Linked DNA regions of Homo sapiens: region 1 is linked to region 2. The links come from fine-mapping of genetic effects on gene expression. A gene starts in region 2. The other region holds a variant in brackets. All regions are shown on one strand. Distances are from middle to middle.

What was found.
Region 1: its variant is fine-mapped to the expression of GCNT2 in whole blood (TOPMed, PIP 0.93).

Annotation. Positions count from the first base shown.
Region 1 is chr6:10,689,749-10,692,663 of GRCh38, forward strand. The region is part of intron 1 of C6orf52 (chromosome 6 open reading frame 52); the gene reads right to left. It also overlaps a transcript of PAK1IP1 not described here. Among named protein-coding and RNA genes, the nearest start is that of C6orf52, 3.4 kb to the right of the region's middle. The variant G/C (reference allele first, on the strand shown) is at 1,495.
Region 2 is chr6:10,519,877-10,522,791 of GRCh38, forward strand. It overlaps GCNT2 (glucosaminyl (N-acetyl) transferase 2 (I blood group)), which reads left to right and starts at 1,475. Exons shown (of 5, transcript NM_145649.5): 1 at 1,475-1,541. It overlaps LOC101928146 (a long non-coding RNA gene), which reads right to left and starts at 1,530. Exons shown (of 3, transcript XR_001743961.2): 1 at 1,472-1,530. RefSeq lists enhancers at 1-41, 1,762-1,821.

The DNA.
Region 1 (2,915 bases), 170 kb after region 2:
AGGAAGGCATCATGCAGAAGAATACTGGGATCCAAGACAGAATGAGTCTAGGTCACCAATGACTAAGGACTCCTTCCACTAGCACTAGACTGGCCTACCGCTGGTTTACTTAATGTCTTGTTTAGACCACTATTGTTATGTCAGGTAAAACACAATTCCTAACTACTGTAGTTTAGACAGCCAATAAAACATGTCAGTTAAAGATTCTTTTCCTGTAAAATTTTTTTTCTCTCACTTTAGGACTGACTTTATTTTACACAAAGAAAATCACAATTATGGCTATAACCAGGTAAGCATTGAGGCTGCAGTTGGAAAGCAACGTGGAAGTTGAACATTGAGGAGGTGCTAAGGAGGCTGAGGAAGAGAGAGGTCAATGTAATCATGTTGCAACCACCTAGGAAGATGGCAGCAGCTGTGGAACAGAAGGTTGTAAGCAAGATCCCAGGGTAAAGATGGGCACTTAGGCCTTGGAGATGACAGTGACAAGGGCTCACAAGCGCTGTTTTGCTCACTAAAAGCCCCAAATGCAAACCTTCTGTTTCAACTAGATTACTCCCATGAATCAGGTGAAGCAAATTTCTATTGGGGCACACTACTGGACAGGTTCAGGGCACGTACAGCATTATCTCCACTTCCCTTCGTGCTGGAAATACAAAGGAGACCAAAACCCCCAGGAATACATTCACGTGCAACCTCCATAGTCCTTGAATTTAACAGAGTTGCTGCCTGTCACATTGAGAAAGAGGAGAATTCAGCAGGAATATGAGACTCTCATATTTCTAACAGGGCTGATTTTTCTCTACTGTGTCCTGCTTGTACCCCAGGATATCCACTTTACCACCCTCAACCACCCAAGAAGAAAAACTAGCTTTTACTTTAACAAACCGAAGCTAAGCACTCAACAAATATTTGTTGAATGAATGAATAAATCAGAGCATAGCTCAAGAGCAAAAACCTTTTCAATCAATAATTTAAAAGCAAAGCTACAAAACAATATCCTCTCGTGCTTTAGTGTTTAATGAACTCTCAACATTGGTTGTTTCTTGGCAGCTGCAGATTTCACAAGAATGAGATTAAATGGCTTTTTACATCCTGTATTTGGAAAGAGAATAGGAGGATTTACAGGAAGTTATGCTCAGTTCCAATCCAGTTAAACAGGTATATAATTCTCTTTTGTCTTTCTTCAGACAATGAAAATCCGCAATCTAAGACCTGAAACTACTGCCACAGCCATGCATAAAATGAAATGCTGCTGCTTTCCTCTCTGTTAAAGAGAATGTTCAAGGCCGAGGACACATAAAAAAGAGCAGCATTGCTGGCTCTGTTATTTAGCTGTGTGTTCTTGAAAAAGTCACTTCTCCAGACATATCTCAGCATTTATAACCTAAGACTGAATCACTGCATTTTACCCTTAATGAGGTACGCTTACACTAATCTTTTTGAAACAGTACTTAAATTGTAGCAGGACAAGCCGCAGACAAAACCCCTCAGCCA[G/C]CGAGTTTAAGAAAGAAGGGCTTTATTCGGCCGGGATCTTCGGCAAGACTCACGTCTCCAACAACCAAGCTCCCCAAGTGAGTAATTCCTGTCCCTTTTAAGGGCTTACAACTCTAAGGAGGTCCGTGTGAGAGGGTCGTGATTGACTGAGCAAGCGGGGGTACATGACTGGGGGGCTGCATGCACCGGTAATTAGAACGGAACAGAACAGGACAGGGATTTTCACAGTGCTTTTCTATACAATGTCTCTAATCTACAGATAACATAACCGATTAGGTCAGGGGTCGATCTTTACCAGGCCCAGAGTGTGGTGCCGAGCTGTCTGCTTGTGGATTTCATTTCTGCCTTTTAGTTTTTACTTCTTCTTTGGAGGCAGAAATTGGGCATAAGACAATATGAGGGGTGGTCTCCCTCCCTTAAAATCCTAATGCTCTCCTCCAAAAATGTATATCCACATATTTGCATATAATTTCATGGGATTCAAAACCCCTGAAATTTATCCAGGAACCCCCAGATTAGTAACACCTGGACTAGATGTTGTCTAAGTCCTCTGAGCTCTGTAATTGGTTCCACTGATTTCTAAGTTTTGGGGTTTTTTTTTCTTTTTAAAGTAAAACCACTTTGAGTTATGTTCATGGTGCTTACACCATGGTTTCCATTCTAGAACCAACTATATTCTAAAATTCCTGGTTGGAACAAAAGTTACTTAAGCAAGTAAAAGTGTGACAGTCTGGTAACAGATTCTAAATAATCACCTTTTTATGGTGATAAGCTAAAATTTATTTTAAAAAGTGTATTAAACAAGTATTAATACTTCTCAAACAGCAGTTGAGATGTCCCTGGGGTAAGGAGACAGGGCACCAGGGACATTCCAGAAGTAACAGAATATACAAAGCATGATTTTGAAAGTTTTAGCGGTTTTTAATTTGTGGATGAGGGTGTAACACTTTTGCATTAAAATAAACAGATATGTTGTGGAGTAAAATGCATAAAGGCACATTTTTAAAGATAAAATGTGAAACTTACAATGTCCTGCTTACTAATACCTTGTCTCACGTCCAGAGGACACTTACTTCACACTCCTCTAATCTTAGTGGTTCTCTGGTGGAAACTTACACATTACAAAAAAAGTAATCTATTCTAAATCCTAAAATAATTTGATTTTTTGTAACACAATGAAGATAACTAGCACAAAGTAAAGAAAGAATGACTTTTTTTTTGAGACAGTCTCACTCTTGCCCACGCTGGAGTGCAGTGGCGGGATCTCGGCTCACTGCAATCTCCACCTCCCTAATTCAAGCGATTCTCCCGCCTCACCCTCCCGAGTAGCTGGGACTATAGGCGCCCACCACCACACCCAGCTAATTTTTGTATTTTTAGTAGAGACGGGGTTTCACCATGTTGGCCAGGATGGTCTCGAT
Region 2 (2,915 bases):
AGACTGCGGTTAGCCAAGATCGTGCCATTGCCCTCCAGCCTGGGCAACAAGAGCAAAACTCGGTCTCAAAAAAAAAAAAAACGAAAAAGAAAAGAAAAATAATCATTGATTTGGGCCGGGTGTGGTGGCTCACGCCTGTAATCCTAGCACTTTGGGAGGCCAAGAGGGGTGGATCACTTGAGTCCAGGAGTTCAAGATCATCCTGGTCAACATGGTGAAACCCTTTCTGTACTAAAAATACAAAAATTACCCGGGCATAGTGGTGGATGCCTGTAGTCCCAGCTACTCAGGAGGCTGAGGCAGGAGAATTGCTTGAACCTGGGAGGCAGAGGGTGCAGTGAGCTGAGATTGTGACACTGCACTGGGTGACAGAGCAAGGCTCTGTCACAAAAAAAAAAAAAAAAAAAAAAAGTTGATTTGCTATTTCTTCAGTTTATCCTGGCTTTATGACTGGAAAAAAATTTTTTTTAACTCAGTTGGATTTTTTCTTTTTTTTTTTTTTTTTTTAAGTTGATGTCTCACTATGTTGCCCAGGCTGGTCTCAGAATTCCTGGGCTCAAACAACCCTCCCGCCTCAGCCTCCCTAGTAGCTGAAACTGCAGGTGCACACCACCATACCCTGCTTTATCCCCACTGAATTTTATAAGCTGCTTCTGACTGCAAAGTGTTTGGCAGAAGAGAGGGATATGGCTAAATGCACGGTATGACTAGCTTGTTTCCTGGGACAGGAATCAGTTCATTCCTGAAAGGGTATGTAAAGAGCCCGTTTGCCTGGCCTAGGAAAAGCCAGAGGTTCAGAGAGAGGAAGTGACTTGCTCAAGATATACAGCTTGCATTAGAGAGGAGAGAACTTGCCTTCTGAAAATGCCCAGGGCATTTTCTACTAAATTCTGCTGCCACCTTAGGATTCCCCTTCCCCAGTGTGGGTAGCATTTGAGCAGAACACATATCTAAATCTGTTAGAGGTTACCCTGGGGCAGAGACTATAAGATTTCCTACCAATAACTAAACATAAGAGTGGAACCTTAAACACGAGGGGTCTGTGAGGGAATCCAAAACTTCCCCTCTTGAAAAAGCAGCCTCTAAGGGGGCAAAATGGAGGGTAGTCTTAGGAAAACACCCAAATAATTATCCTGAGGTCTATCTTGGAGTGTCCTCATGAAAAACCCAGTTACACCCAGGGCAGTTACCTTTCTGAGCGGTTTCTTATAACATTCCTGGAGTGGAAAGTGATCAACTCAAAGCCCTCCAGGACTCTAGAGGCAGGGGATGAGCTGGTGTCAGGTAGCACCTGGTATCCAGCAGCTTAAAAAATCCAGACTCTAGGCAGGCTCTCTGTAGACGTGTGTTCTCCTGTCTCAGACTCTTAGGGCAGGCCTTGGGGGTGGGACTGAAAGCAAACAGACCTTCCCACTTTCACATTCCAGCCTCTGTTATTCCACTTAAAACGCTAGGGTTAAACTGCGTTTACCTTAAACAGGCTTACTGTGTTCACTGCTGGACGCCTCTGGGCAATCTTACCCTCCTGGGAACTGAGAGAGGTAGGTGGAGGTCAGCGTGCTGGGAAACTGGTGGAGGGAGGAAACTGCGGGGAGCTGGTCTTCTCGTGTTACCTCTGTTAAATCGCTGACAGCAGTTTAAGGTCCAATAGGCTGGTACTCAAATGGGCTGCGTGGATGTTTTATATTTCCAGAACCTAGCACAGTGCCGGGCATAAAGTAAGTACACCAAAAAATGTTGAATGAGTCATTTGGTCATGAGATTTCTGTTTTCAAAGGTTTTTTTTTTTTCAAAGAATAGCATGTTTGTATGTTGTTTCATTACATGATGGGCCTACTGGGCACGAGGGTTTTCCATCTGTCTCTAAATCATTAGTATCCTTCTGTATCTCAGTTACAACTTTTAACTTTGTAGGAAAGAACAACGTTCACTTCAGACTTAATGGTTTATGTTTCTCAGTTCCTTCAGGCAAGGGAAAATGTTTCCAGAATTTGATAAGGTACTTGGTACTGTCTGGCATTTAAATTTTTTTTTTTTTTTCCAGACATAGTCTCACTCTGTCACCCAGGCGAGAGTACGGTGGTGCGATCTCAGCTTACTGCAACCCCCACCTCCTGGGTCCTGCCTCAGCCTCCTGAGTAGCTGGGACTACAGGCATGCACAACCAAGCCCGGCTAATTTTTGTATCTTTAGTAGAGATGGGGTTTCATCATGTTGGCCAGGCTGGTCTCAAACTCCTGACTCCATGTGATCCACCTGCCTCAGCCTCCTGAAGTGCTGGGATTACAGGCGTGAGCCACCGTCCACAGCCTGAAATGTATTTTATTTAATTAGTTGCTGTGAGGTATGAACATTCCTGTGAGGTATGAACCTCATTTGATAATAGGTAAAATTGAAAATGAAGCTCTGGGCCATGTAGAAAAGTAGTAGATCCATATTGCCATTCTATGAAAACCCATCTTCTGATATTAAAGACAGGTCTACTAAGTAAATTCAGGTTTTGCCAAACTCAAAGCTACTTTTCTGTTTTCCTTATTTTTAAATGTAGGCCTTTGAGAGTCGTCACTTGTAAATAGTCTTTCTGCACCTGGTAGTAGATTGGCCAAATAGAGGGTAGTTACCTGTAGGCTGTGGTTTTCCAGAAGAAATAGGGAGACTGTAATCCCAGGCCCTGGGGACCCTACAGCGTAAAGGATCTGTTTCTTTGCACTCTGTTCTGATTGAACAGCATATTGCAATTATCGGAAGAAGGGAGGCTATATTCTTTCATGTAATTATTCTTAGTGATCAGAAGCTTGAGGTCTCCCTTGTGGAAGTATTCTACCTATGGCAGTAATTTTTGGTTCCTGTAACTTCAAAATCCTATCAAGGACTTTCTGAGCGATAGAGGTCGGGAGGGTAAGAGCAAAACTCCA